Regions from separate parts of the Homo sapiens genome. Here region 1 is linked to region 2. Evidence: fine-mapped expression QTL. A gene starts in region 2. The other region holds a variant in brackets. All regions are shown on one strand. Distances are between the middles of the regions. Region 1 holds the start of PPEF2 (protein phosphatase with EF-hand domain 2). Region 2 holds the start of NAAA (N-acylethanolamine acid amidase).

Evidence for each region. PIP is the estimated chance that this variant, and not a neighbour inherited with it, causes the effect.
Region 1: its variant is fine-mapped to the expression of NAAA in lymphoblastoid cells (TwinsUK, PIP 0.95).

What each region holds. Positions count from the first base shown.
Region 1 is chr4:75,894,292-75,909,564 of GRCh38, forward strand. It overlaps PPEF2 (protein phosphatase with EF-hand domain 2), which reads right to left and starts at 8,161. Exons shown (of 17, transcript NM_006239.3): 1 at 7,939-8,161; 2 at 1,980-2,092. The coding sequence starts at 2,034. RefSeq lists an enhancer at 14,381-15,273. The variant C/T (reference allele first, on the strand shown) is at 7,327.
Region 2 is chr4:75,932,269-75,947,541 of GRCh38, forward strand. It overlaps NAAA (N-acylethanolamine acid amidase), which reads right to left and starts at 8,745. Exons shown (of 11, transcript NM_014435.4): 1 at 8,476-8,745; 2 at 7,733-7,897; 3 at 3,841-3,967. The coding sequence starts at 8,681. RefSeq lists silencers at 8,028-8,097, 8,498-8,967.

The DNA.
Region 1 (15,273 bases), 38 kb before region 2:
GTACCTTTCTGTAATGGAAGTATAAGCTTGCCAAAAGGTGCAATAAAAACTTAATGAATTATGACATCCCTTTAAGGAAAATAGAGAGCCTAATATCGACTTCCAATAAGAAATGGCATGCTTAAGCAGATGTAGGACTCCCTCACACTCCAACACATTAAGAAAAGCTGCATAAAATAAGCTAAATTTCTTTTTAACCAATAGTTGAAATCAAAAGCATTGAAGGGAGATCTCCGGGTGCCAGAAATGAAGACGGAACCCATAGCCAAAGGCAGTTAGAGGCACTGAAGTCAGGCAGGCCCCAGGGGAATCTCAACCAGACACATGTCTCAGGAGCTGGGGTTTAACACCTGTATGGGGATGAGAGTGAGTTCCTGGGTTCTGTGCATGGCAGGGAGTGGTAACTGGACTGTCTGTGAAAAGGCAGGAGCTGGGGAAGTTTCTGTACCTTGCGTGATCTAATAAATCTCTGCCTACCGGCCCCTGTGGTAGCAGGAGCTGAGCTGACCTAGAACTCAGTGAGATAGAAAGTCTCAGCCTGTGGCGTGTGTGGGTTGAATTCGTGTTATTCACAAGATAAGGAAACCCTGAGCTGAAGCTAATTCCAAAATTGGTCCAAACAAGTGACAAACTGGGAAAAAATATTTGCAATTTATATCACAGTTGATATCCCTACCATATTAGAAATGATTTCACTCGGTCACCCAGGCTGGAGGGCAGTGGCATGATCATAGCTCACTGTAGGCTTGAACTCCTGTGCTCAAGCAATCCTCCCACCTCAGGCTCCTGAGTGTCTAGGACTACAGAGGTGCTCGCCACCACACCCAGCTAATTAATTTTTTTTTTTTTTTTTTTGCTGGGCATGGTGGCTCACTTCTGTAATCCCAGCACTTTGGGAGGCCGAGGCGGGCAGATCACCTGAGGTCAGGAGTTCGAGACCAGCCTGGTCAACATGGTGAAGCCCCGTCTCTACTAAAAATTCAAAAAATTAGCCGGGCATGGTGGCACCCGCCTGTAATCCCAGCTACTTGGGAGGCTGAGGCAGGAGAATCGCTTGAACCCAGGAGGCGGAGGTTGCAGTGAGCCGAGATTGTGCCATTGCAATCCAGCCTGGGCCACAGAGGGAAACTCGGTCTCAAAAACAAAAAAAAATTTTTTAGGTTGGGCACGGTGGCTCACGCCTGTAATCCCAGCACTTTGGGAAGCCGAGGCAGGCGGATCACCTGAAGTGAGAGTTCAAGACAAGCCTGGTCAACATGGTGAAACCCAGTGTCTACAAAAAACACAAAAATTAGCCAGGCGTGGTCGCGGGCGCCTGAAATCCCAGCTACTCGGGAGGCTGAGGCAGGAGAATCGCTTGAACCCAGGAAGAGGAGTTTGCAGTGAGTAGAGATCGTGCCACTGCACTCCAGCCTGGGCGACAGAGCAAGACTCCGCCTCAAAAAAAAAAAATTTTTTTTTTGTAGAGATAGGATCCTTGATCTGTCGTCCAGGCTGGTTTCAAACTCCTGGGCCCAGGTGAGATTCTCTCATCTCAGCCTTCTAAAGTGCTGGGATTACAGGTGTGACCCACAACTCCTGGCCTATTGTTTTAAAAAAAAAATTGTTAGATTGGCCACTAGAGGGAGCTCATGCTTCCTTCTTCCCACCTCATGACCTTTGGACGTGCTCTACCCTCTGCCTGGAATGTGTTTCATCCCCTCTTTGCCCAACCTTATTTCATTCATTTGTACCTGGGTAGTTTGGGATCAACCCCAATGGACAACACTAACTTCCTGAGCGAATGTTAATTCTGTCAAATATACTTCAACTGGACATTTTGGTGGGCATGTCACAAGGAGGAGAAGCTGACCTCTAAGAGCTGGCCTGAGGAGAAATTTAAGGGTTTTTCTGCTTCTACCCTCAGAACCCCCAACCCTCTCCATGCAATATGGGCTTTGTGGTACCCACAGCTGGTTTGGAAAGTGGGAAACACGTACCTCTCTCTGCATTCTGGAAAGCAAAATGATGTTGGGTGGAGGTGCCGCTTCCCATAGTTTAAGCGCAATGCTCCTGCAGGACGCAGCAGATCCAGAGGACAGTGAGCTGTTTGCTGACAAAATGAAGAGAGAATCTGTAATAGGAGATGCAGGCAGAGTATTAAATCGGGTGGGCCAAATTGTCTATGAATCATGTGAGAGTATCCTCTCCACCTCTCCAGTCTAAGTGCACAAGATGTTCCTCCCCTGAGAGTTCCCTCCATTTGTCATTCCCTAGGTCTCCCGTTTTCAACCTTTCCACTGCCTTTTCCTTTCAGTCTAGAAACATACTGAAATCTCTTATTTTGCATTCTCAAAGCAATTCATCCGCCACCTCCTCCTCCCTTGACCTCCTATATTCCTCTAACTGTCACCCAACCTCTCTTGTCTTCTCATCCAGATTTATCTCAAGGGTAGACTACAGTTTTCTCTTTACTTCCTCTCAAAATCACCTTTTTCATCCTCACTATTGATCAAAGCCTTTCCTGATGCCTCTAATGTCTTCATCTTTTCAGTCCTTACCTTGCCAGAACAGCAAGGCCATCTGTCTCCATAGGCCACACCTTTCTTTCTTTCTTTCTTTCTTTTTTGAGACAGAGTCTTTCTCTGTCACCCAGGCTGGAGTAGTGCAGTGGCACAATCTTGGCTCCCTGCGAGCTCCGCCTCCTGGGTTCACGCCATTCTCACCCCCTCAGCCTCCCGGTTAATTTTGTTTTTGCATTTTTAGTAGAGACGGGGTTTCGCTGTGTTAGCCAGGATGGTCTCTATCTCCTGACCTTGTGATCCGCTTGCCTCGGCCTCCCAAAGTGCTGGGATTACAGGCGTGAGCCACTGCGCCTGGCCAGGCCACACCTTTATTTCAATTCTACACCTTGAGCTTCTGTGATACTAAACTCTTATGTTTACTCCCATCTTCCTGACTACTTACTGTCTCTGCTTCTTGAGCTCATTTTCCTCTGTCTGTCCCTTATATGTTGATTTTTATTTGCATTCTAGTCTCAAATATCTGTTGATCTCACGTGGTATATGCTCCCTGGCTGGTTTAATTAACTCTCACATTTTCAGCTATCACTTCCTACCTCTTAGATCTCTGTCTCCATCCCAGATGATCCCTAAACTTCAGCCCCACATATTCAGCTCCCTGCTAAACACTTTGATTGGGGTGTCTCAGACTCCAAACAGAACCCATCTTCCAGGCCATGTGCAGTGGCTCATGTCTGTAATCCCAGCACTTTGGGAGGCCAAGGTGGGCTGATCACTTGAGACCAGCCTGGCCAACATGGTGAAACCTCATCTCTCCTAAAAATACAAAAGAATTAGCTGGGTGTGGTGGTGCACACTTGTAATCCCAGCTACTTGGGAGGCTGAGGCAGGAGAATGGCTTGAACCTGGGAGGCAGAGGTTGCAGTGAGCCAAGATGTGTAACCACTGCACTCCAGCCTGGGCGACAGAGCAAGACTCTGCCTAAAACAACAACAACAACAACAAATCTTCCCCAAAAGCCTCGTCTGCCGAGACCAGCTCAGTCAGGGAGACCCTAACCCAGCGGTGCTAGAGGAATTAAAGACACACACACAGAAATATAGAGGTGCGAAGTGGGAAATCAGGTGTCTCACAGCCTTCAGAGCTGAGAGCCCTGAACAGAGATTTACCCACGTATTTATTACCAGCAAGCCAGTCATTAGCATTGTTTCTGTATATATTCGATTAACTAAAAGTATCCCTTATGGGAAACGAAGGGATGGGCCGAATTAAAGGAATAAGTTGGGCTAGTTAACTGCAGCAGGAGCATGTCCTTAAGGCACAGATCACTCATGCTATTGTTTGTGGCCTAAGAATGCCTTTAAGCGGTTTTCTGCCCTGGGCGGGCCAGATGTTCCCTGCCCTCATTCTGGAAAGCCCACCACCTTCCAGCATGGGCGTTATGGCCATGATGAACATGTCACAGTGCTGCAGAGATTTTGTTTATGGCCAGTTTTGGGGCCAGTTTACGGCCAGATTTTGGGGGGCTTGTTCCCAACATTCGTCTCTCTTCTCTCCTTTCTTCAAACTCTGTGCTTTAACTACCATGACCTCTGTGTTTCTGCTCTTACCTGGAATGTTCTTTCTATCCCACTTCTCTTAAGCTGGCTAACTTTATTCATTGCTAAAGGCTCACTTTAAGTATCACCTTCCTTAAAGAAGCCAGCTTGACCTGCTCCTCCTCTGAGCTCCTGAATATCCTGTTCACATTTCCATCACTGCAATACCATATTACAGTCTTTAATCTTGTATCTCTCTACTATTAGACTGTGAGTTCCTTCAGAGAAAGACTGTAAGCAAATTCATCATTTTATCCCCAGGATTTAGCACAGTGCCTGACATGTAGTAGGGATTCCATAAATATTAACTGAATAAACTTTATGCCTTATTTATTTTTTGCTGACACATAATAATTATACATATTTATGGGATACAATGTGATATTCTGATACATGTATACATTGTGTGATCAAAGCATAGTAATTGGCATATCCATCACCTTAAACATTTATTATTTCTTTGTTATGAGGACATTCAAAATTCTCTCTTCTAGCTATTTGAAATATACAATGCATTATTGTTAGATATAGTCATGGTACTGTACAATGGAGTGCCAGAACTTATTCCTTCTATCTAACTGTAACATTGTACCTGTTAATCAACTTTCCTCATCTCCTGCTTCCTTCTATTTTCCCCAGTCTCTAGTAATCATTACTCTATGCTCAACTTCCATGATCTCAACTTTTTTAGCTCCCACATATGAGTGAGATCACGCAGTATTTGTCTTTCTGTGCCTGGCTTATTTCACTTAACATAATGTCCTCCAGGTTCACCCATATTGTCACACAGAACAGGATTTCATCCTTTTTATGGCTGAATAGTATTCCACTGTACATATATACTACATTTTCTTCATCCATTCATCCACTGATGGGCATACAGGTTGATTCTATGTCTTGGCTATTGTGAATAATGTTACAATAAACATGAGTATGCAATTGTCTCTTCAAAATACTGATTTTGCTTCCTTTGGATATACACCCAAAGTGTAGTGGGATTGCTGGATCATTATGCCATATTTCTTTTTATACAACAAAGATGACACTTTCTCTAGTTCTTCTTCAGGAGGTAATGTGAGATGTACTGACTTAACATCAAGAGCGAATCCCACTTCTTTTACTCTTTTCTCTACCTCATTTCTACCCCACTCTCCTCCGCTATTTTTGAAGGTTGTGATACTGGGGATTATCAAAGAGTTGTTGTCTTTTTCTCTGAAAATCAAAATTAAAGTCTTACCTTGCTTATGTTGGCTAGTTTATTTTGAATAAACAACCAGAGGAAAAAAGACTGTGATCTCTTTTTGTGTGCAAAATGGTTCCTAGTTCTATGAGATGTCATGATACCAGAATCTGAGTTTGGGGTAAAGTGAGAAGCCATCATGTCCAAACCAACAAAACTGCTCCTAAATATTTGCACAGTTTTAGAACTAGAAGGGACTTCAGCAATGATTCTGCTTGTCAATGACTCACAAGTTGCTTTGATACATTGGTAACTTGCCTGCATAGCCAAGTTGTGTATTTAAGAGTGTTTGATGTGGGTGAGAATTTTTGTTCACCTTCTCACTCAATTTTGGGCACTTAAGCTCTCAGAGACTCAGTTTTCTCATCTATGTATCTTCAAGGATCATAAATGATATATTTAAAGTGCTTTCTATACAATAAAACCTCAATATATGTTGATGGACTGAATCTGATGTCATATTTATTTTAAAATATCAACAACCAAAAATATGTTCTTGGAGGCAGTAAAAGGCATACTATTTCAATGCTGCATGAATCAGCAGGATGGATACTGATTATTGCTGGGTCAAAGATTTTTATTAAATAAATCCTCTTTTGCCCTTAGGCAACTTTTTTTCTCATGAATTTATAAATTCAAAAATGGTGGCAGAATAAGATGACCTACAAAGAATTTATTGGAGATAGAAATATAGCATTGCCTAGAGTAAGGAAGTTGATATCTATCATGGGCCAATAAACTATTTAGAACAACCACAAGAGATGAAAGAAATGAAGTCTCCCATTAGGTAGTTGTAACTAACTCTTGGTGACCTTTTGTCACCAAGGACAAAAAGGATATGTTTTCCTATGTCATGTGGAAGGGGAAAAGGGGTACCTAGCTACCATTATAACAGCAAAGGCACATGTGATCCCTGCCTTGGGGCTCCCTGGTCTCATCTGTTTCTCTGTTATTTATGGATAATGGTAACGTCATTACAGGGTTGTTAGGAGTGTGAAGTGAGGTTATATATGAGGAGTACTTTGCAAATGTTTGTCATCGTCATGAAAAACATAGATAAGGAATTTTCTTAAATGACATCCTCAAAAATCTCTTAAAGTTCTTCTCCTCCTCAGATAAAAAGCACCTTAAATAATTATCAGTAAAGAATCAACAAAATACATCATGATGCTTTAAAAACAATGGAATGTATTCCACCATGACAAAGAACAAGGCAAGTCGATATGTAATCATATGAAAACGGCCCCAAGATATATTGTTACATGAAGAAAAGCAAATTCCAGAAGAGCACGCCTAGTGTGATATCATCTGTATAAAAAAAGTCAGTAAGTATATAAAAATGAAAGACTATACACCAAGCTATTAACAGTAATTACCTCTGGAGAAAGAGGTTGGGTGAGAGATTTCCATTTTTAACTTATATACTTCTATTACAGCTTTTGTAATTAAAAATCAATAAATGATATTTTTCTAAAATTTTTACACATAAGAAAAATTAGAAAGTGGCTCTGACTAAATAGGTATCCCATATGGCTGCTTAAGAGAAGAAGATGGAGTCATCTACGGACAAGCAGAGAACATTCTAGAAATCAATAAGAAAAATGGCTGGGTGCCGTGGCTCATGCCTGTAATCCCAGCACTTTGGGAGGCTGAGGCGGTTGGATCCCCTGAGCTCAGGAGTTCGAGACCAGCCTAGCCAAGATGGTGAAATCCTATCTCTACTAAAAATACAAAAATTAGCTGGGCATGGTGGCACATGCCTATAATACCAGCTACACTATTTGGGAGGCTGAGGCAGGAGAATCGCTTGAACCTGGGAGGTGGAAGTTGTAGTGAGCCAAGATTTCGCCACTACACTCCAGCCTGGGTGACAGAGCGAGACTCCACCTCAAAAAAAAAAAAAGGAAATGAACAGAAAGGGGAAGTAGAATAATTCTCAAGGGAAAAACTAAAAATGTGAAAACTTCATAAGGTCAGCCACAGAAAA[C/T]GAGCTTGAGGGAGCCCGAGATTGTTGAATCAGCACCTTTGGTAATCACCAGCTGTCTTCTCCCCCTGATGATTTCCCAAGCTGAGCCATCTCTCCAGGTGATGAGTACATCCACCCAACGTGGGTGAGACCCCTTCTCCTTCTAGAATTTGACTTAGCATCATCAATGCCTCACATTATCATGAAAAACAAAAATTAGCTAGGGGTGGTAGTGCAGCATGCCTGTGGTTCCAGCTACTCAGGAGGCTGAAGTGAGAAGACTGCTTGAGCCCAGGAGTTCGAGGCTGTAGTGTGCTATGATTGCACTTATGAACAGCCACTGCACTCCAGTCTGGGCAACATAGTGAGACTCTGTCTCTTAGGTGGAAAAAAAAAGTGTTTATCTGTCCACTAAGTGAGCCCAAGAAATCCAGGGCAGAATGGTCACCCAGCACTTGAAGATCTCATCACACAGATAGCAAAGACCCCATCTGGATGAGTTGATAGATAACAGAGGAGCTGTCTTTGACCTTTGTCTCAAAACAACTCTGTATTTATTTCCTAGGTAAAAACATAAGTGTCGCCCTCCTGTTCTCACCCATTTCTACTTTAGGCTAGACAGAAAGTTCTTACCTTCTTTGCTGGGTTTTTTATTTACCATGAGACACAACAAGGCAGAAATCTCTTTAACATGCAGGCGTGATCCCCATCCTGTCTTCAGAGTTGGCTGAGGGATCCCAGGCTGATCTGATTTCTTTCAGACCTACAGAGCCCATAAAGAAGGTGCAGCCCTAGTCTGCCATGTCTTCTTCCTGAAAAGCAATGGTGACATTCACAGCCCTGGCCAAGTATTCACAGTGACAGGAAGGAAAGTTCAGGCTTCTTGCCTCGAAGGAGTAGGCACCCCCTGACGTCAGTCAGATCAGGCCCCCAAGGAAGATTTGAAGGGGGCGACTGCATAGTCGGGGTATCTCCCATATACCCAAGGAGATGGGTTTCTCTAACAGCACCCACGTCAGTCCTAAATCTTCTTACTCTCCTGGATTAGAAGACTGTGTTTCCCAGGCCACATCTGAGAAGCCTGAGCTCCTTAGCCCTGAAATAGCAGAGTGCTGACAAGACACAGGGGCCTAGGGGCTCTGGAGTCCAAGGGGAGTCCTCAGCAGAAGACACATAGGAGGCATTCTTTGTTGGGGCTGGCTTTTCTGTTTGCAAAGCCTGCTTGAAATATCCTGCCCTTTCTATGGACACTTTCCTTAGGATATAACCTAATCTGTGGTTAATCACTATTCTTGGACAACTTACTTTTTCAGTTAATCTAAGATGCTCGTGTGTGTGTTCTGGTAGGTACTAAATGCACCATGGAAATTCTCAAAGAAAGTGATATTCTGTTTGTCTATATCTAGTAGGTCAAGTTTGTTCATTATTATTATTATTATTATTATTATTTTGAGACAGTCTTGCTCTGTCGCCCAGACTGGAGTGCAGTGGCACAATCTCAGCTCACTGTAACCTCTGCCTCCTGGGTTCAGGCAATTCTCATGCCTCAGCATCCCGAGTAGCTGGGATTACAGGCACCCCCGCTGCCATGGCCAGCTAGTCTTTCTATTTTTAGTAGAGACAGGGTTTCTCCATGTTGGCCAGGCTGGTCTCCAACTCCTGGCCTCAAGTGATCTGCCCACCTCAGCCTCCCAAAGTGCTGGGATTACAGGTGTGAGCCTCCACACCCGGCCTAAATTTGTTAATTATATTAATTCAGATCCTCTTTATCTTTGTTTATTCTTCCTGATCTGACCATCTTTGAAAGAGGTATTTTGAAGATTTCTATGACAAGTACAGATTTAGCAAATTCTCCTTGTATTTGAGTCTTTGCATTACACGTTTTGAAGCTATATAATTAGATATTAAATTTAAACCATGTAAAATTGCCATCGGCAACTGTGTAATTACACATGAAGCCGTATTGTCATTTAACTGTCTTGGTAGAGGGTGACATAAAAATTAAATATCACTCTGCCTTTTAAAATTCTTTTTGCATTTGATTCTCTTTTGTCTGATATTAACATTTTCACATTAGCTTAGTTTTTGTTAGTGGCTGACTGCTAACATTCTTTCTCCAAGTTGACTAAAAGACTGATAAAATCCTGTATTACTGAGAGTATGAGAAAAAGGACCCTCTCCATATACTATTGCTGGGATCGTTAAAATGTTTCATTTTGGGGGAATTAAATTAAATTTTAATTGTAATTTATTAAATTACATACTTAAAATATGTAAATCCTTTAATCTAGAAATTATACTTCTAAGTATCTTACAGAATTATACACCCATGCAAAAATCTATATAAGGATTTTTATTACTGTATAATTTGTGATTAGGAAAAGTTGGAAAATAACCTAAGATATTTTTTTATGTGGTATTACCCATATTTTCTAGTTTCCATATTGATGCTTTGACATTTTGGGGCCTTGTTGACCAGGGAGAGACTACACCTCCTGGGATTAGCTGATCCCTGAGATGCAAACTAACCAATCTAGAGCCCTACCACCAAATCCCTCCTTTTTTGGACTTTCATACTCAAGGCCGTTATCTCTCTACCCTAATCACCCTGACATCATATATCAGACAACTCAGTGCAGTCTACAGTCAGGAGTCAGCTGACACTATTCCAACTAGCTAGTCCTCCACCTGCTTAGCCGCCTTACCCTGCCTCACCCATTCCTTCCCTCGAAAACCACAGTTCTCCTGTCCTCTGCCTGTGACCAACCTCAGTGTTCTCTCCCGTGGCTGTGCAGGTGTGACCTCTCCTCTTGGGAACGAGGAGTAATAAGCTATCTTTTAAATGGCAATTGTCCCCTGATCTGTTGGCCTTATCATACCTGAATAAAAATAGAATCTACATTTTAAAACGTTTATGCATTTTTAAATGTCTTAATGAGTACAGATGGCAGTTATCACTAGGGGTACTCATGGGGAGAGTGCCATCCACAAGTGGGGAAGAGAGGCAGAGGATCACATTATGTACTGTTTGATTTATTTTTATATTAGAAATCTGTTACTTGTGTTCTTATTATTATTATTTTTTTTTTTTTGAGACAGAGTTTCGCTCTTGTTGCCCAGGCTGGAGTGCAATGGCGCAATCTCGGCTTACTGCAACCTCTGCTTCCTGGGTTCAAGCGATTCTCCTGCCTCAGCTTCCTGAGTAGCTGGGATTACAGGCATGTGCCACCATACCTGGCTAATTTTTTATTTTTAGTGGACACAGGGTTTCTCCATGTTGGTCAGGCTGGTCTTGAACTCCTGACCTCAGGTGACCCGCCAGCCTCAGCCTCCCAAAGTGCTGGTATTACAGGCGTGAGCATGGTGATGCCCAGTCACTTGTGTACTTTTTAAAAACAGAATATTTTGAAAACCAGCTCTCTCCATCTGCCATGAAAGCTCTGTAGGCCAAGCCATTTTTATTTAAAAATATATATATATTTTTTGAGAACGGGTCTTACTTGCCCAGGCTGGTATTTGCAGTGGCACAATCACAGCTCACTGCTGCCTTGACCTTCCCGGACTCAGGCAATCCTCTTGCCTCAGCCTCCCAAGTAGCTGGGACCACAGGCATGTGCCACCATACCCACCTAATTTTTGTATTTTTTGTAGAGATGGGGTTTTGCTATGTTGTCTAGGCTGGTCTTGAGCTCATGCAATCCACCTGTCTCGGCCTCCCAAAGTGCTGGGATTACAGGTGTGAGCTGCTGCGCCCAGCCAAAATTTTTTAAATAAAATTTTCAATTTTATTTATTTATTTATTTATTTTAGGCCAGGCGTGGTGGCTCATGCTTGTAATCTCAGCACGTGAAAGGCCGAGGTGGGTGGATCACTTGAGGTCAGGAATTCAAGACCAGCCAGGCCAACACGGCAAAAGCCTGTCTCTACAAAAAATACAAAAAATTAGCAGGGGATGGTGGTGTGTGTCTGTAGTCCCAGCTATTGCAGTGAGCAGAGATCACACCACTGCACTCTGGCCTGGGCAACTGAGTGAGATGCTGTCTCAAAATAAAAAAATAAATTTTAACTTTTTAATTAAAAAATTTTATTGCCTCTTGTTTTTAAAATTTATTTTATTTTGGTAAGAACACAACATGAAATCTACCCTTTTAACAGATTTTCTTCTTTTTTTGAGACAGGATCCCACTCTGTCACCCAGGGTAGAATGCAATGGCATGACCACAGTTCATTGCAGCCTCGACCTCCCAGGCTCAAGTGATCCTCCCACCTCTGCCTCTTAAGTACTTGGGACTACAGGCACACATCACCACTCCCAGCTAATATTTTTATTTTTGTAGAGACAGAGGTCTCACTATGTTGCCCAAGCTGGTCTCAAACTCATAGACCCAGGCAATCTTCCTGATATGAACAGGAGACGGGGAAATACTGGAAAGTTATTTATTTTGTTTGATTTATTTACCTGCCAAAAGCCCCACCCTCAAGCCTGGAAACCCGAGGCCCCAAATGGGAACAGGCATTCCTGTTTTCGTGCCCAAATGTTGCATCTTGGCCCGCCACACCCCACATCCTGTACCCATATAAACCCCGAATCCCTGGGTCCATGAGGAGATGAGCAGAAGAGCCAAAGAACTGAAGAACGGCATGGCAGAGAAGGAGCATCTGAATATCTAGAGGAGTCCAGCTGGGGACAGTTGGAGAGGAGTTCTGCCACAGGACTGCTGAACTCCAAGGGAAGATCATCTTTCCACTCCGTCCCCGTTCCAGCTCCCCATCCATCCTGCTGAGAGCCACCTCCACCACTCAATAAAACCCCCATATTCACCACTCTTCAAGTCTGTGTGTAACCTGATTCTTTCTGGGTGCTGGACAAGGGCCCGGGTACCAAGGGGACACTGAGCTGGTTAACACTTAAGCCATCTGTGGATGGCAGAGTTAAAAGAGCACTGTAGCATGCCTACTGGGGCTTCAGGAGTCAAAGCACCACCCCTAGAAGCTGCCCTGGGGCCAGAGCCCAAAAGCGCTCACTCTGGTTCCTGCACCTGCCTGTCTGTATCCTCCCGCTCCTATAAGGGGTTTGAGCTTGTGGCAGCTGAACAGAGATCAACACCCCTGTTGAGTGTCCTGCAAGGGGAGCCAGGGAACTCTCCTGTTTCACCCCCACCTCCGCCTCCTAAAGTGCTGTGATTATAAGATAAACCACCACGCCTGGCCTCTTAACAGATTTTTAAGTGTACAATAGGCACGACGTACAGATCTCTAGAAGTTATTCACCTTGTATAAATGAAACTTTACACCAGTTGAATGGCAACTTCCTATTTCCCCAGCCCCTTAGCCTTTGACAACCACTCTCTACTTCTTGCTTCTATGAGTTTGACTATTTTAGATACCTCACATAAATGGAATTATTCCAGTAAGCACTGTGATTGGCTTATTTCATTTAAGATAATGTCCTCCAGGTTGTCATATTGCAGTGAAGAAAACCAAAATATGTCACCCCAAAATACACCTCTTTGAAATAAGAATTATTTTGAGCTAGGCGGGGTGCAGTGGCTCATGCCTGTAATCCCAGCACTTTGGGAGGCAGAGGTGGGCGGATCACGAGGTCTGGAGATAGAGACCATCCTGGCTAAGATGGTGGAACCCTGTCTCTACCAAAAATAAAAAAAATTAGCCGGGTGTGGTGGTGGGCGCCTGTAGTCCCAGCTACTCGGGAGGCTGAGGCAGAAGAATGGCGTGAACCCGGGAGGCAGAGCTTGCAGTGAACCGAGATCGCGCCACTGCACTCCAGCCTGGGCAACAGAGCGAGACTCTGTCTCTTAAAAAAAAAAAAATTATTTTGAGCTAAAGGCAATTAAAAAGCAGCAAACAGGCTGGGCATGGCGGCTCACGCCTGTAATCCCAGCACTTTGGGAGGCCGAGGTGGGTGGATCACCTGACATCAGGAGTTCAAAACTAGCCTGGCCAATATGGTAAGGCCCCGTCTCTACTAAATATACAAAAATTAGCCGGGCATGGTGGCGGGAACCTGTAATCCCAGCTACTTGGGAGGCTGAGGCAGGAGAATCGCTTGAACCCAGGAGGTGGAGGTTGCAGTGAGCAGAGATCATGCCATTGCACTCCAGCCTGGGCAACAAGAGCGAGACTCTGTCTCAAAAAAAGAAAAAAAAAAGCAGCAAACAGTATGCAGTGGCTCATGCCTATAATACCAGTGATTTGGGAGGCCAAGGCAGGTGGATTTCTTGAGCTCAGGAGTTTGAGAACATCCTGGCCAACATGGCAAAACCCGGTCTCTACTAAAAATTCAAAAAAAAAAAAAAATTAGCCAGGCCTGGTGGTACACGCCTATAATCCCAGCTACTCAGGAGGCTGAGGCACAAGACTTGCTTAAACCCAGGAGGCAGAGTCTGTGGTGAGTGGAGATCATGCCACTGCCCTCCAGCCTGGGCAACAGAGCGAGACTCTACTGCACTCCAGCCTGGACAACAGAGCAAGACTCTGTAGTCCCAGCTACTTGGGAGGCTGAGGTGGTAGGATTGCTTGAGTGCAGGAGTTTGAGGTTGCAGTGAGCTATGATTACGCCACTGCACTCCAGCCTGAGCAACAGAGTGAGACCTCGGCTTTAAAAAAATAAAAAAGAAGATAGTCTTGCTCCTCTTCTTCCTCTTTCAGGAAGGACAAAGGCTAATCCCCAGAGACAATTCTAGATCCTTATTGGCCTGGACATGGCACCAGAGAAATCTACATACCAAACTGTACAAACTAGGCTTTATCTACTGTTTAAGTCAAATAAAATATAGAGACAAATTTAACATTTTTTGGGGGAAGCAAGAATTGCAATTCCAGGTCGTCCACAGAGACAGGGTGATCTTCGGTACGTTCAAAGAACAAAGAGAAGGTTGGAAGTTTTATAAAAAGGAGAAATGTTACATATTGTTTTGAAAGAATGTTCATCAGCGCTAGTAAAGTTTTGGGAAGGGGGCAAACTCTGATTGGTGAGTGGTTGCAGTGGGTAAAATTAATCTTACAGTCTTAGCAGCTGTTTCAGTAGCTACTAGATAAAACTGGTTTCAGGTTTTAACGACGGTTTCAGCAGTCAAGCTTGCCAAGAATTGCATTCTTGGAGCAATGTTTTGTGCCCTGTGTGCTTTTTCTTCCTGTCCTCTAAATGCCCTTTTATAATTAAAAAAAAATTTTTAGAGACAAGATATCCTGTCGCCCAGGCTGGAGTGCAGTGGTGCAATCATAGCTTAACTTCAGCCTTGACTTCCTGGGCTCTAGCAATTGTCTCAAGTAGCTGGGACTACAAGTATGATCCACCACACTGGCTAATTTTTTTGTTTGTTTTTTGTAGAGACAAGAGTCTCCTTACATTGCCCAAGCTCCTAGTCTCAAGCAATCCTCCTGCCTCAGCCTCCCAAAGCGCTGAGCTACCGCACCTGGTCTTGACTTTTTTAGTTGGTCATGACAAGAATGACCCAATTCATATAATTAACTTTTTTTTTTTTTTTGAGACAGAGTCTCGATCTTGTTGCCCAGGCTGGAGTGCAATGGTGTGACCTCGGCTCACCTTCACCTCCACCTCCCAGGTTCAAGTGATTCTCCTGCCTTAGCCTCCCAAGTAGCTGGGATTACAGGTCCCCGCCACCACGCCCAGCTAATGTTTTTGTATTTTTAGAAGAGATGGGGTTTCACCATGTTAGCCAGGCTGGTATCAAACTCCTGACCTCAGGTGATCTGCCCGCTTCAGCCCCACAAAGTCCTGGGATTACAAGTGTGAGCCACCACACCCAGCCAATTAACTTTCATCTATCTTTTGTTACTATATGTTTTCCTTCCCACAATTTGCTGCCCCGAGAGACTCAAGGTCCTTTTCCTTTGTCTTGTCACTTCTCTAAAAATTTATAGTTCCTTTGCTAAGATGCCATATAAAAACAAGTTCAAAACAAACCTTTGAGTTACTCTTCTCTG
Region 2 (15,273 bases):
ATTATAAGAGATGAATATCACATATTTTATAAGCTCTGTGAAGTTAGAATATCAAAGTGGGACTGTTCACCAATAATAATCACATTTAAATTTTAAATATTTAAAAATCCTTTAACAAAGCTCTTTCATTTAATCCTCACAACTATCCCATGAATTATAGGCATCACTCCTACTTTAAATTAAGGTCACAAGCTCCAGTGATTGCAAGATACCACTATGTAACCTGCAGGAGAAAAATCAAACTCTGTATGTCACCGAGGCTGGAGTGCAATGGTGCAATCACGACTCACTGCAGCCTCGACCTCCTGGGCTCAAGCAATCCTCCCACCTCAGTTTTCCAAGTAGCTGGGACCACAGGTGCATGCCACCAAACCTGACTGATATATAAATATATACAAAATTTTTTTTTGCTTTTCCTAAAGACAGGGTCTCCCTATGTGGCCCAGGCTCGTCTCAAACTCCTGGGCTCAAGCAATCCTTCTGTCTTGGCTTCTCAAAGTGCTGGGATTACAGGTGTGAGCCACCACAGCTAGCCTTTATCAGTTATTTCTGATACCAAATTTTATTTTTCAAAGAAGTACTTTGGCAAGGCATGGTGGCTCACACCTGTAATCCCAGCACTTTGGGAGGCCAAGGTAGGCGGATCACTTGAGGCCAGGAATTTAAGACCAGCCTGGCCAACACGGTGAAACTCCAACTCTACCAAAAATACAAAAATTAGCTGGGTGTGGTGGCACGCACCTGTGGTCCCAGCTACTCGGGAGGCTAAGGCAGGAGAATCGCTTGAACCCAGGAGGTAGAGGTTGCCGTGAGCCAAGATTGCACCATTGCACTCCAGCCTGTGACAGAACAAGACTCTGTCTCAAAAAAAAAAAAAAAAAGTACTTAAAACAGTATCTGACTCATACTGTTCAATAAAAGTTAACTAATACCATTATGTTTTAAGAAATAGATAGTCCTAGATTGATATTTTCCTTAGAAAAATTAGGTCAGTAATGTTTTTCATTTAATTATTTATTTTTACCTTATCTGCTTGTAAAAATAATTTAAGGTGGCTGAATTACAAGGGAGAATGCAGTGTCCTTAGCTTTATAAATGACCTCAGCCCTCAGACTTACTGAGGACCTCCATGAATGTCTCATCTCCACGCATGGTGGTAAAGCAGAAATAAGTCTTCCTTACTACTCAAATGTAATTATATGGAAAATAAAAAGTAATTATATGGCCACCTCATTTGCGTGACACCGTGATCGTCAGGGTCACTCTTGGAGGGCTGAGAAAATTGAAGTTATGAGATCAAAAGTCACATCGTAGTTTTCAATTACGATACATAATTATAAATAATTTTGAGATATAATTTGTAAGATATTTTATCTTGCAGCTCTGAAAATCTGTCTTTACTTCTGTTTGTACTTCCCAGTTGTTTCTGCCTAGTCAGTTAACATAAACAAACCCTTAGCAGGGAATTTTAAGTTACAGCCTGGTGCCTGGTGCGGTGGCTCAAACCTGTAATCCCAGCACTTTGGGAGGCCGAGGCGGGTGGATTATCTGAGCTCAGGAGTTCAAGACCAGCCAACATAGTGAAACCCCATCTCTGCTAAAAATACAAAAATTAGCCGGGTGTGGTGGCACCCTCCTATAGTCCCAGCTACTTGGGAGGCTGAGGCAGGAGAATTGCTTGAACATGGGAGGCAGAGGTTGCAGTGAGCCGAGATCGCGCCACTGCACTCCAGCCTGGGTGATAGAGCGAGACTCTGTCTCAAAAATAAAAACAATAGTAGTAGTAATAATAATAATAATAATAATAATAATAATAATAATAATAATAATTTACAGCCTAATTAAGGCTGTAAACAAAAACTATCAGTAGGCCTAACGCCTGGGTTCTGGCCCTACCTCTGCCATGTCTCTAGAGGCCTTGTGATTCGGGGCAAGTCAGTCTCTGTGAAGCTGGGCCCCCTCATCTAGAAAGTAAAGATTAAAATGTTGACTTATGCCTGCTTCACAGGGCTGCTGGGGGGATCGAATGAGGTCCTGTGTATGATAATACTTTTGTTGTTGTTGTTGAGATGGAGTCTCACTCTGTCACTGGGCTAGAGTGCAGTGGTGCGATCTCAGCTCACTGCAACCTCCGCCTCCCAGGTTCAAGCGATTCCCCTGCCTCAGCCTCCCAAGTAGCTGGGATTACAGACACCCACCCACACGCCCAGCTAATTTTTTTTTTTTTTTTTTGTAGTTTTAGTAGAGACGGGGTTTCACCACATTGGCCAGGCTGGTCTTGAACTCCTGACCTCGTGATTCGCCTGCCTCGGCCTCCCAAAGTGTTGGGATTACAGGCGTGAGCCACCGCGCCCAGCCAAAAATACTTTTAAGATTACAAACACTAGACAAGAATGAGAGATGAATTATTTTGTGGATAACCTGTTCTTAATTTCATAAAACAATTTCTTGGCCATGAGTCCTCCATAGAAAAGCAATACCCAAGTGTAAACTGTCTATATTCAGTAACAGTCACCTGAGTACTGAGAGTAAAACTACCTCTACAGACTATTTCTCTATAGATTATTTCATGGGAACTCCAGGAAAAACAAAAACAAATGAAGCAACAACTATTAGAGTGAGTTTCAGAGCAGCTGAAATAATTTATTTTCATTGCATTTATTCCTTTGTCTCTTTATTAAGAGTATTAGCTCATTATAGAACAATGGAGAAAAAACATGAATAAATAATAAATAATATTATCCTTCATTCAGTAATAACTTAATATTTAGCAGATTTCCTTTGAGAATTTATTATGCATTTATATTATCGTTACCACTTAAAATCATTTTTAAAGTAATTCAGCTAGAAATCAAATTGTTAATAGTGGCAAAGTAAAGAAATGGGACTGGAAAGGAGAAACTTTTACTTTAAATATTTCTGTACTGTTTGAATTTTTTATGAAAAAAAGTGTTTGTAAAAGCAGATGACTGAGTAGTTAGTAAATGAGTTTTTAGTATTTGTGAATCAACCCCTAAATGCAAAGAACAAAGGGAATATAGTCCTTGTCCTTACAGCCAAAATCTGGCTTTTGCACTCTGTATTCTGTTTTACAGCAAAACATGCTTTGCGTACTCAATGAACATTGATTAATTCTGTCTCTCTAAAAGTTTACACAGTTGACAACAGCACACACTAGATTATAGTTTTAAAGGGACCATGCTATAAACAAAAGATCTAAGTATAATTTTTTAAAGATCATACACAAGAAAGTGGTGTGGGTCAATCACACTTGCAGAATGAAGGACCATTTATTATTTGGCTACAACTTTACATAGACTACTTCATTTAACATTTATAACTATCGCAGTAAAGTAGTTATGAGCCTCCATGAGCTGTAGTCTGCAAAATTAGGGAATGAGTAATTTCTCAGGTTCACAAAGGAAGTACAGTAATTGATAGAATCAAGATTTAAACCTGGGACTGTCAGATCCCAAAGTTGGGTGTTTCTAGTTATTGCACTACCCAGCCCCTCCATATTCCAGAAGCAGCCTGGGCATGGGAAAGCAGAGGAAAGAGCTGACTCTGCATAAGTGGATGATTGATCACTCTCTAAAAGAGATTTCCCTATGGAAAACTGGGTGACCTCTTTAAGTAGACACTGAATAATAAATAATAAATGACCGTCCTTCCTATAAGCATAATTGATGCAAACCTCTCTTCTGGCTTTGTTTTTCCAGGGGTGTGATTTTTTTGTGTCTTACACTGATAACACACTTAAGTTAGCAGGCCATCCAAATGACTGCTAACTTGAGTTTGCAAATCTTTCTGATTTTTTATCTTATATGGTACGGATTATACCTGCCCATTCTTTAAGAATTGCACATCCACTGTCAGCTTGCGTAAGACATTCCCAAAAGGATAATCCAAATTCCGACCATGGTAAATGTGGCCTCTGGAGTCTTGAGCCACAATACTGGTGCAGAACCTGAGAAAAGGGAAAAGTCCAACATGAATGAATAAGACAAATAAGAAAAAAAAGGAAAAGGAGTTTTTCATTTGTAAAACAAATCCTCAAAGTAAAAGTTTTTCTTCCTTATAACTGATATATGTGCTATAATGCTTGTATAAGAATATAGATTAACAATTCAAGATGAAAAACACAACTGGATACAACTCATCTGTGTTCATTCAGTGTTTCTAGGATCTTTACCCTTAGCACACATGGAGGGCATCATAAGCATAGTAAGTGAGAATTTCATCCTCAGTCTAAATCTGAAGTGAAACTAACCCATCCTGGGCTCAGGACACCTCTGAACTCTGCTTTTTCCTCTGCATGGCAGCATGTATTCTATTTAACACATGATTCAAAGCCAGCTCAAGCTCACCTCTCCATATATGAATTCCTCAGAGCAAATAAAGTAACACTAAACCATTGTTTCACAAATGTTTCATTTTGTCCCCTTGGGAAAATGGCTGGCTCTTAAGGGACTTGGCACTTTTCCTTTCTCTCTCCAGCTCCTTGCACAGAGATCATAATTTTAAAAAAGGGGGAATCTCTATGAACAGAAGTATTGTGAGAAAAAGAGGAGGAGGCTTGTTAAGTATCTATCCATATTCTCTGAGAATATTTAACTGTACATGAAAAAATATTTATATACAGTATGTCCAATACCAGAGGGAAAAATATGTATATCCACATGAACAAAACTGAGAGAAAATATCCTGAAGGGTTTTTCTGGTCATTTTTTAATAACAGGATGGTGGTTAGCTTTGTTTTTTTACTTTTCTACATTTACTGATTTTCTACAACGATTACATGTTACTTTTATAATTGGGGAAAAAAGTGTTACTTTTTGTTTGTTTGTTTTAAGATGGAAACTTGGGCTGGGCAAGGGCACAGTGGCTCATGCCTGTAATCCCAGCACTTTGGGAGGCCAAGGTGGGTGAATCATGAGGTCAGGAGTTTGAGACCAGCCTGGCCAACATAGTGAAACCTCATCTCTACTAAAAATACAAAAATTAGCCGGGCATGGTGGCGCACACCTGTTGTCCCAGCTATCTGGGGGGCTGAGGCAGGAAAATCGCTTGAACCAGGGAGGCGGAGGTTGCGATGAGCCAAGATCGTGCCACTACACTCCAGCCTGAGTAACAGAGTGAGACTCCGTCTCAAACATAAATAAATAAAATAAAATAAAGACGGAAACTTGGTCAGTTTTAATTCCCTCCAAGGTTTCTGTTATTTATTTATTTATTTATTTATTTTGAGTCTCTGTCACCCAGGCTGGAGTGCAGTGGTGCAATGTCGGCTCACTGCAGCCGTGACTTCCCGGGCTGAAGCGATCCTCCCACTTCAGCCTCCTGAGTATCTGGGACCACAGGCGCAAGCCTCCACATCCGGCTAATTTTGTGGTATTTTTTGTAGAGACAAGGTTTTACCATGTTGCCCAGGCTGGTCTCGAACTCCTGGGCTCAAGAGATCCATCCACCTCAGCCTCCCAAAATGCTGGCAATGCAGGCGTGAGCCACTGTGGCCGGCCACCCTCCAAGGTTTCTGAGCTTAACTTCAAAGAGTTCAGGTCAGGGAGGGGACTGGTAAGACATGGGAAGTACTAAAGCAAAGTTTGTGGGATCTCTCTCAGAGGCGATTTTTCAAAATTGGCAAGATAACAATACTTCCATCTCAGGCCCAAATGTTGTAGTGTGATGCAGCAGTGCACAAGCATGGGAGACAAATGAGGAAACAGGCTCTGCTTTGAAAGGCACTGCAGCGAACTGGAGATTCCCATGCTTTTAGCACTCACCAGCCACCTGACTTCCAGCAAGGTGGCCCCACTGAGGCTTGGTTTCCACATCACAAAACAGATGATACCATCTTCCCCACGGGACTGTGTTCATGAAGTGCCTGGCACCCAGTAGGCTCAATAAAGGGTAGCTAGTATTATTCTAATTCAAGAAGGCTTACTTCCAACATGAGAAGAAAGCATTTCCTTTGTTAATGCTAGTGAATTGAATGGTGCTATTAGGCAATTCAATAAATACCTTAGTATCAAATCCAAAAGTTAGAATGTTTTTACTAGAACTTTTGCTTTAATGTGTTTGAATATGGTGACTCCAACAGATGAGGGTAAAAATGATTCGTGATTTTTCATTGAGAAAGCTGTAAGTTAAAAATAGGAAAAAGTTGGAGGTAGGAGAGGGAGGTGGTAAAATTATAATAACTTAGTTCAACTGAAAAGCATGTTATTTAGCAGGCCTGTGTCTTTTCTGTGCCTGAAAGCATTTCCTGAAGAGGAAGGCAGTCCCAGTGCTTTTTAGCTTACTCTGCCTAGGTGTTCTGGGAAAATGCCTGGGCCAGTAAAGTTTCATTATTCCAAGATCTTTTCTACCCCCATCATCTTTAGGCAGCAAGAAGCTCTAAGTATGTACAAGAGGTTACGAGATGAAGCTAGTCTGCTGGCAAAACAATAAGTATTGAAGGAAGAAACCAAGTCAAAACCTCTCTTTATTCCAGGGCCTATTACTGAGCCCATAAACCTTTAGTGGTCCCCTGCACTTTGCCTGGGATCAACCACACACTCCATGTTGCTTTCACTTCTGGGTGCACTTTTTTTCTTTGATATGGAATCTCGCTTTGTCGCCCAGGCTGCAGAGTGCAATGGTGCCATCTTGGCTCACTGCAACCTCTGCCTCCTGGGTTCAAGTGATTCTCCTGCCTCGGCCTCCCAAGTAGCTGGGATTCACAGGTGCCCGCCACCAGGCCCTGGTAATTTTTTTGTATTATTAGTAGAGACGGGGTTTCACCATGTTGGCCAGGCTGGTCTTGAACTCCTGACCTCAGGTGATTCACCCGCCTCGGCCTCCCAAAGTGCTGGGATTACAGGCGTGAGCCACCGCGCCCAGCCTGGATGCACATTTTATCATGCCCACTTCCCGGTCCAAACACTGGCTGGCCCTATTAGAGCAGTGTTCCCTGTCGCCCCAGCCCTGGTGGACACAGACACTTCAGCCACGACACACATGAAAGGATAAATGCAGGGCGACAAATAAGGGCAGAGATGAGCCACTGCCAGTATAGAGCTGGAAGGCCACTGAGTTAACTAAAGGGTCCAGATGAGAGGAGGCTTAGTTTCAAAAACTTCCTGGAAAAGTACGTTTTGAGCAGAATTTTTTTTTTTTTTTTTTTGAGACAGAGTCTCGCACTGTCGCCAGGGCTGGTGTGCAGTGGCGCGATCGCGGCTCGCTGCAACCTCCGCCTCCCGGGTTCAAGTGATTCTCCTGCCTCAACCTCCTAAGTAGCTGGGATTACAGGCGCCCACCACCACGCCTGGCTAATTTTTTGTGTTTTTCGTAGAGACGGGGTTTCACTATGTTGGCCAGGCTGATCTCGAACTCCTAACCTCGTGATCTGCCCACCTTGGCCTCCCAAAGTGCTGGGATTACAGGTGTGAGCCAACGCGCCCGGCCTTTGAGCAGAATTTTAAAAGTACGCTACCTGGATTGGGGAAGAGAAAACCCGGGGCTACACGTAGAGGGAAAGTTTAGTGTTGAATCGGAGAATCTGCTTTCCCTCTCGAAGCCTACGATGTGCAGCTCAGATTTACCCAGAGAGGCAAAGAGGAAGCGCTGGAGGTTTCTAGGCAAGCAGGCACCGCCCTGTTTTTATCACACGGAAAATATGTCTCCTCCCGCTAGTCTGTGTCGGGGGCCCCCGCAAGCCCCGCGTTACTCCGCGCGGGCTTGGGGCACTCACACGGAGGACTCGTAGGCCAGGTTGACCAGAAGGCAGTCCGCCAGGCTGAGGTTCATGAAGTCACACATGCCGCGGATCTCGCCGGTGAAGGGCTGGGGCAGGAAGCGCTCCAGCTCCAGGACCACTTTTCCGATTAACACGTGCACCCACTTGGGGACTCTGTCCCTAGAAACAAAAAGCACAAGGGCGTCTGACCCGCTCAGAGGTCGGCGGCGTGCGACTGCGTGTGCACTGCGAGCGGGGCTACATCCTTAGGGCGTGAGGTCTCAGGGCCACTGCTCCCCAGTCAGTGGACCGCCCAGGCGCGGCGTCACTCAATCTGCAGCCTCCCGGGAGTGGGGGGAAGGGGGCGGGGGGAAGGCGGCGGGTAAGAAAACTCCGAATGGGGAGGGCGAGTGAGGCTGGTCCCAAAGGGGCAAGCTTGGAAGGCCCGCGAGGCCCGCAAGGAAGGCGCGGGTTGCCCCTCCTTGGTAGCTATGCAGCCCGGGCGACAACTCGCGCGCCACGCTGACCCGGAATGGCTCAAGGACTGGCGTGCCACGGGTGACACCGAACTTGAAAGCCGAACCTGCCGCGCTGGATTCTCCCCAACCCGGACGCTGCTCAGGGCGGCAGCCAAAACCAGTTCTCCAAGGGTGGCGGGGAGTAAAGCGTCCCCGTTTAAAGCACTCTGAGCAGCGCGCGTTTGACTCCGACCCGCAGGGCCGGTGTCCCCGCAGACCCCGTCCAGGGCCCCAGCTCACCCGATGACTTGCGCCATCGCGGCGCGCACCAAGTCCAAGTCGTAGTGCCGCAGCACGGGCAGCCAGCGCAGCTCGGGGACCGAGTCCAGGCTCACGTTGAAGCGCGGCGCTGCTGGGGGCGAGGCGGCTGACAGCCCGGCCCCGGCCAGCAGCAGCAGCAGCAGGGACGGAAGCCCCGGGCGCGCCTCCCGGTCCGCGGTCCGCATGGCTCGGGCTCCAGCGGCCGCAACTTGGAGACCTGCAGCCGCTGTCGGAGCCCGGGTAAGCCGTGGAGGAGGAGGAGCTGGGGCTGGGCTGCGATCGCTGGAGGTGGGGCCCGCGCACGACCCGCCCGCCCCTGTCACCGGCAAGCCGGAGCGGCGACACCTCCCGTCCCCGCCGCGCATCCACTAGCCCGCCCCGACTCTCCATCGGGCCTGGAGGTCCCTGACCGCGGGGCCGCTAAGGGTTGGGGCTGCCGGCAGCCGGCTTCTCACCAACTGCCGGTTCCAGCGCACCTGCTTGGGCCGAAGGAGTGTAGGCTGCGGCCGGGAGGGGCTGTAAGATTTTCAGTAGCGAAAAGGTGTCAGGAAAGACTTTTCAGTTAAACTTTGTTTGCTTGTTTGTTTGTTTGTTTGAGATGTAGTCTCACTCTATTGCCCAGGCTGGAGTGCGGCGGCGAGATATCCGCTCACTGCCAACTCCGCCTCCTGGGTTCAAGCGATTCTCCTGCCTCAGCCTCTCAAGTAGCTGGGATTACAGGCGTCCACCACCATACCTGGCTAATTTTTGTATTTTTGGTAGGGACAGGGTTTCACCATGTTGGCCAGACTAGTCTCGAATTCCTGACCTAAGGTGATCCACCGGCCTCAGCCTCCCAAAGTGCTGGGATTACAGGCGTGAGCCACCGCGCCTGGCTGGTAAAACATTTTTTTAAAGCTCAAAATTTAGTGAACATTTATCTGCTAAATATTTTTCGCGGACATTATCTCATTTAATCATCAAAACAAGCCAACAGGTAGGTTCCACTAATCCTCGCTTTACTGATGAGGAGTGTGAGGCTTGGAGAGGTGAAGCCATGTACCCGAGGTTACTCTGCTGGTGTGTCTCTGCACTGGCCTCCAAGTAAGGAGGTCTGAATCCACAATCCACCTTCACACCTAAGTTTCTTCACCTTTGAGTTCCCAATGTCTGGGAGACAAACTTAGGAAAATCTTAGTAAGGCTGGGACATTCTTAACGGTTAGCACAGTTGTCTGTGGGTAAAACAGGGTACATGTGTACATGAATAGTAGAAACTAAATGAAAGGGCCGGGCATGGTGGCTTAGGCTTGTAATCCCAGCAGTTTGGGGGGCTGAGGCGGGTGGATCACCTGAGGTCAGAAGTTTGAGACCAGCCTGGCCAACATGGTGAAACCCTGTCTCTACTAAAAATACAAAAATTAGCCGGGCGTGGTGGTGTAATCCCAGCTACTTGGGAGGCTGAACAGGAGAACCTCTTGAACCTGGGAGGCAGAGGTTGCAGTGAGCCGAGATTGTGCCAATGCACTCTAGCCTGAGTGACAAGAGCAAAACTTTGTCTCAAAAAAAAAAAAAAAAAAAAAAAAAAAAAAAAAAAAAAAAAAAAAAACTAAATGCATAGTAGAAACTAAACACATTTTTTTTTTATTTTTTACCAATTTTAGGATGAAGAAATACAACTTTTATAATCAATCACTTGTTTTTAAGGATAACACTTAAAGGAATTACAAAATTTCTTGCCAGACATGGTGGTTCACGCCTGTCATCCCAGCACGTTGGCTGGCTGATCATCTGAGGTCACTTGGTTTAATGAATAGAATCAGAATTGCTGGTGGTTGACTTCCAAGACTAGGTCACAAAAGACACTGTGGGTTTCTCCTTGCTCTCTTGAATTGCTCACTATAGGAAGCCCATTGTCATGTCCTGAGGAAGCCCTATGAAAATGTCCCTTTGTGGCTGGACACAAATCTCAGCACTTGGAGAGTCAGGCAGGAGGACTGCTTGAGCCCAGGAATTGGAGACCAGCCTGGGCAACAGTGAGACCCCATCTCTACAAACAAATAAAAATAAATTAGCCGGGCATGGGGGCATGTATCTTTAGTCCCAGCTACTTGGTAGGCTGAGGTAGGAGGATTACTTGAGCCCAGGAATTTGAGGCTGCAGTGAACTATGATCACGCCACTGTACTCCAGCCTAAATGACAAAGTGAGACCCTGTCTCCAAAAAAGAAGTAAATAAAATTGAAAAAAAAGAAAAAAGAAAGTCCCTTTGTTGAGGAACTGAGCTTCTACCAAGAGCCAGAGAGGAACTGAGGCTTCTTGTCAAGTCATCTGAGTGAGCCATGGTGGAAGTGGACCTTCCTGCCTCAGCTAAGCCACCCCCAAATTCCTAACCCATAGAAACTGTGAAGCAGGCCGGGCATGGTGTCTCACATCTGTAATCCCAGCACTTTGGGAGGCCGAGGCGGGCAGATCACTGGAGGTCAGGAGTTTGAGACCAGCCTGACCAACATGGTGAAACTCCGTCTCTACTAAAAATATAAAAATTAGCTGGGCGTGGTGGCGGGTGCCTGTAATCCTAGCTACTCGGGAGGCTGAGGCAGGAGAATTGCTTGAACCCAGGAGATGGAGGTTGCAGTGAGCCCAGATCGCACCACTGTACTCCAGCCTGGGTGACAGTGAGACTGTCCCCCCCCGCAAAAAAAAGAAACTGTGAAATAATGTTTATCACTTTATGCCACTAAGTTTTGAGGTAATTTGGTATGTGACAAACAGATCATTAATATAGATTTGTTTGGGAACGTAACTGTAGTGCTACCATAACACATGCCTAAAAATGTATTGCTTTGGAACTGGTAGTAGGGAGAAATTGTAATAATTTTGAGCAGAATGTTAGTGAGAGCCTAAAGTTCCTAACAGACTGATGATTAGTAGAAGTCTGATGATTAGTAGAAATCCCTTGAGAAACAAACCATCCTAAGAAAGAAACAGTCTGATGGTCTTGAAGGAGACTGCCAGCACTAGCCACTTCAGAAGTGAGAATGTTATTGGAAACTGGAAGTAAGAGGTTCCTTTGTTATGTAGTGCCAGAATGTTTAACATGATCACCTAGAGGAATGCAGAACACAGAAAAATGTACCTAAGGAACTAGGTACTCTAGCTAGATCTCCAAGCAAAATGTTGAAGTTGCTACCTGGCTTCTTGCTGCTTATAGTCAAATATGAGAGGAAAGAGAGAAGCTAGAGCAAGGACTGTTAAAAAGGATCCAGAAATGGTTTTGAAAATCCTAGGCCCAAAGTATACATGAGAACTTAGTTTATCATAGATATCGCATTGTTTATCTGTGGAGATATCTGCAACATAGGTAATTGATAAAGAATTAGTATCTAGAATGCGTAAAGATCTCCTATGTTTTTATTACTAAAAAAAAAAAAGGAAAACAAAAGGCTATAAAAAGAGGAAAACCCAAATGAACATAAAAATGTGAAGTTATTTCAACCTCTCTAGTAATCAATGAAATGCAAATTAAACCATGATACCATTTCATAAACAAAGGGTTGTCTTAAGTTTCAAAGTCTAATAACATCTTGTTGACATGGATGTAGTAAGATACAAACTTACATGAGTTACTGACGAGAATATAGTGTTAATTCAGTATTGCCTAGTAAAGTTGAAGAATTGCAGACCCTACAAACCCAGTGATTTCATTTTCAGTTTTCTGGATTTCTTTTTTCTTTTTTTGAGACAAAATCTTGCTCTGTCGCCCAGGCTGGAGTGCCGTAGCGTGATCTCAGCTCACTCAACCTCTGCCTCCCAAGTTCAAGCAATTCTCCTGCCTCAGCCTCCTGAGTAGCTGGGATTACAGATGCGCACCACCACACCTGGCTAATTTTTTTGCATTTTTAGTAGAGACAGGGTTTCACCATGTTGGCCAGGCTGGTCTCAAACTCCTGATCTCAAGTGATCCGCCTGCCTTGGCCTCCCAAAGTGCTGGGATTACAGGCGTGAGCCACTGTGCCCAGCCCATTTTCAGTTTTCTATCTAAACTTTGTTTAAAGAAAAAACTCTAAGACCATGAACCCTAGAAGACATGTTCAAAGATGCTTACTGCAGCAAGGTTTTAATTAAATTAATTAGTTAGTTACTTTTTTTGAGAGGGAGTCTCACTCTGTCACCCAGGCTGGAGTGCAGTGGTGTGATCTCAGCTCACTGCAACCTCCCCCTCCTGCCTTCAAGTGATTCTCCTGCCTCAGCCTCCCAAGTATCTGGGATGTGCCACCATGCCTAGTTAATTTTTGTATTTCTTAGTAGAGCAGGGTCTCACCATGTTGGCCAGGCTGATCTCAAACTCTTGACCTCAGGTGATCTGCCTGCCTCAGCCTCCCAAAGTGTTGGGATATAGGCGTGAGCCACTGTGCCCAGCCTGCAAGGTTTTTAAATAGCAAAAAAAGTGGAAAACTTTTTCTAACTGCTTTTTGGTAGAATGATAAATTGTGGATGTATGAATAAACAATGGAAACTATACAACAATTAAAATGAATCTCCATCTATCAAGAATCTAATGTTGAGTTACATAGCAAAAGAATTTATAGGATACTGCTTATGTAAAAATTTATATATACATACAAATATACAAGGGAAAGAAAAAACTGCAGGAATGATAGGCATCAACCTCTGGATAAGGATTATCCCTGAGAAGGGGGTGGGAAATGGCTGAGTGGGACATAGTTATACTCTTAATGTTCATCAACTTCTAGATAAGGGTTATCCCTGAGAAGAGGCGGGGAAATGGCTGAGACATAATTATACTCTTAACGTTCTAGTTTTTAAGTTTTTAAAAAAGCAAAATATTAACACTGAATAAAACTTGGAGATGAACAAGTTTCATTATTTTCTATATGTATGTTTTTTAAAAATCACAAAATGATAAAATGTTTAAAAGATTTAAAAAGATTTAAGTATCCTTAAAACAAGATGTTCTGTTGAACATCATTTATTCTTAGTTTCCATGTAATTCTTTTGAACTTCCCCTTTTGTAACATTTCCCAGAATTAGGGTTTCCATTTTGTTCTTAATTTTCTTTTCCTCCTTGGCCAAATTTCTTTTAAAAACACCTCTGATGGTAACATAGATATTAGGAATAGCAAGTACAACAAAATTGGATCTTACGAAGATGGAACTAGAAGTATTTTAGATTAAAAAAATTTTTAGTAGAAATGTTTGATAAGCAACATTACAAAATATTTAAAATGTAAAGGAGTTCATGGCCATGAGCTGTAAAAAAATTTTTTTAAATGTAAAGGAAAAAATCCAATCAGTTATATTCCCATCACCCAAACCTAGCAACTACTTTCATATGCATATTTTATTTATGAAATTGTAGTTATACGAAGCACCATTATTTTATGTATCTTGAAGAAAAATTCACTGCCATTTAAACTATGATACGCTGTCTTACTAGAATTTAAAAATGTGTATGTATTGAAAGAGTTTTCTTAAGTTTTTTGTCAAAATTATTTGAAAATCACATATCTACTCTTCTATGTTTTTAAAAAGTGAAATAAATTAAGCTATTGCTTAAGCTTCTTTGCATTCTGAATTAGATTCTCCTGAATCACCATTTGACTACAGATACCCATGTTTTTCCACACCACACTACTTTTCTGTGCCATTAAGAATCTTGGCTGGATGTGGTGGCTCACACCTGTAATCCCAGCACTTTGGGAGGCCGAGGACGGTGGATCACTAGAGGTGGTCAGGAGTTTGAGACTAGCCTGGCCAACATGGTGAAACCGTCTCTACTAAAAATACAAAAAATTAGCCGGGCATGGTGGTGTGCGCCTGTAATCCCAGTGACCCGAGATCGTGTCACTGCATTCCAGCCTGGGTGACAGAGTGAGACTCCGTCTCAAAAAAAAAAAAAAAAGAAAAAAAAAGAATCTTAGTGCTGGCCAGACATAGTGGCTCCCACCTGTAATCCCTGCACTTTGGGAGGCCAAGGTGGGAGGATCACTTGAGGTCAGAAATTTGAGACCAACCTGGGCAACATCGCGAGACCCTGTCTCTATTAAAAATAAATTTTAAAAAATGATTAATAGCTAGGCATTCTGGCCTGGGCCTGTGGAGGATCTCTGGAGCCCAGGAGTTCAAGGCTGCAGTGGGTTCTGATTACACCACTGCACTCTGGCCTAGGTGACAGAGCAAGACCCAGTCTCTGAAAGAAAAAATAAAAGTCTTAGTGATGCCTCATTTCTTAAAAGTTCTCCACTCACGAAGGAGGTTTCAAGGTGTTTGTAATGTTTCTTAATCTGAGTGCTGGTTACAGGAATGTATTCAGCTTGTGAAAATTCATTGAGTTTAAGTACACTTGATGGTACCTGTACTCTTCTTTACATGTCGATAAAGAGTTTGGAATTTTTTAAAAGTTCCAGTTTTTTTCTGGAATTTTCATAAAGGCTACTAATTCCCATTCTGCAAATTTTGATGTTGGTCCCTGCTTCATGTTAGCAGATGTCAAGTGAAAATAGCAGACCAGGTTTGTGAATGTGCAGGCAATGACAACTACATCAAGACTGTTGTCTGGCTGCAAACATTTTTAAACATCTCAATTTCAGAGATTAAATGTGTAAAGAAATTGTCTTAAAACCACTTGATCATTTTATTTATTTAGAGACAGAGTCTCGCTCTGTCACCCAGGCTAAACTACAGAGGCTTGAACTTTACTCACTGCAGCCTTGACCTCCGGCACTCAAACGATCCTCCTGCTTCAGCCTCCTGAGTAGCTGGTATGGCAAGCATGC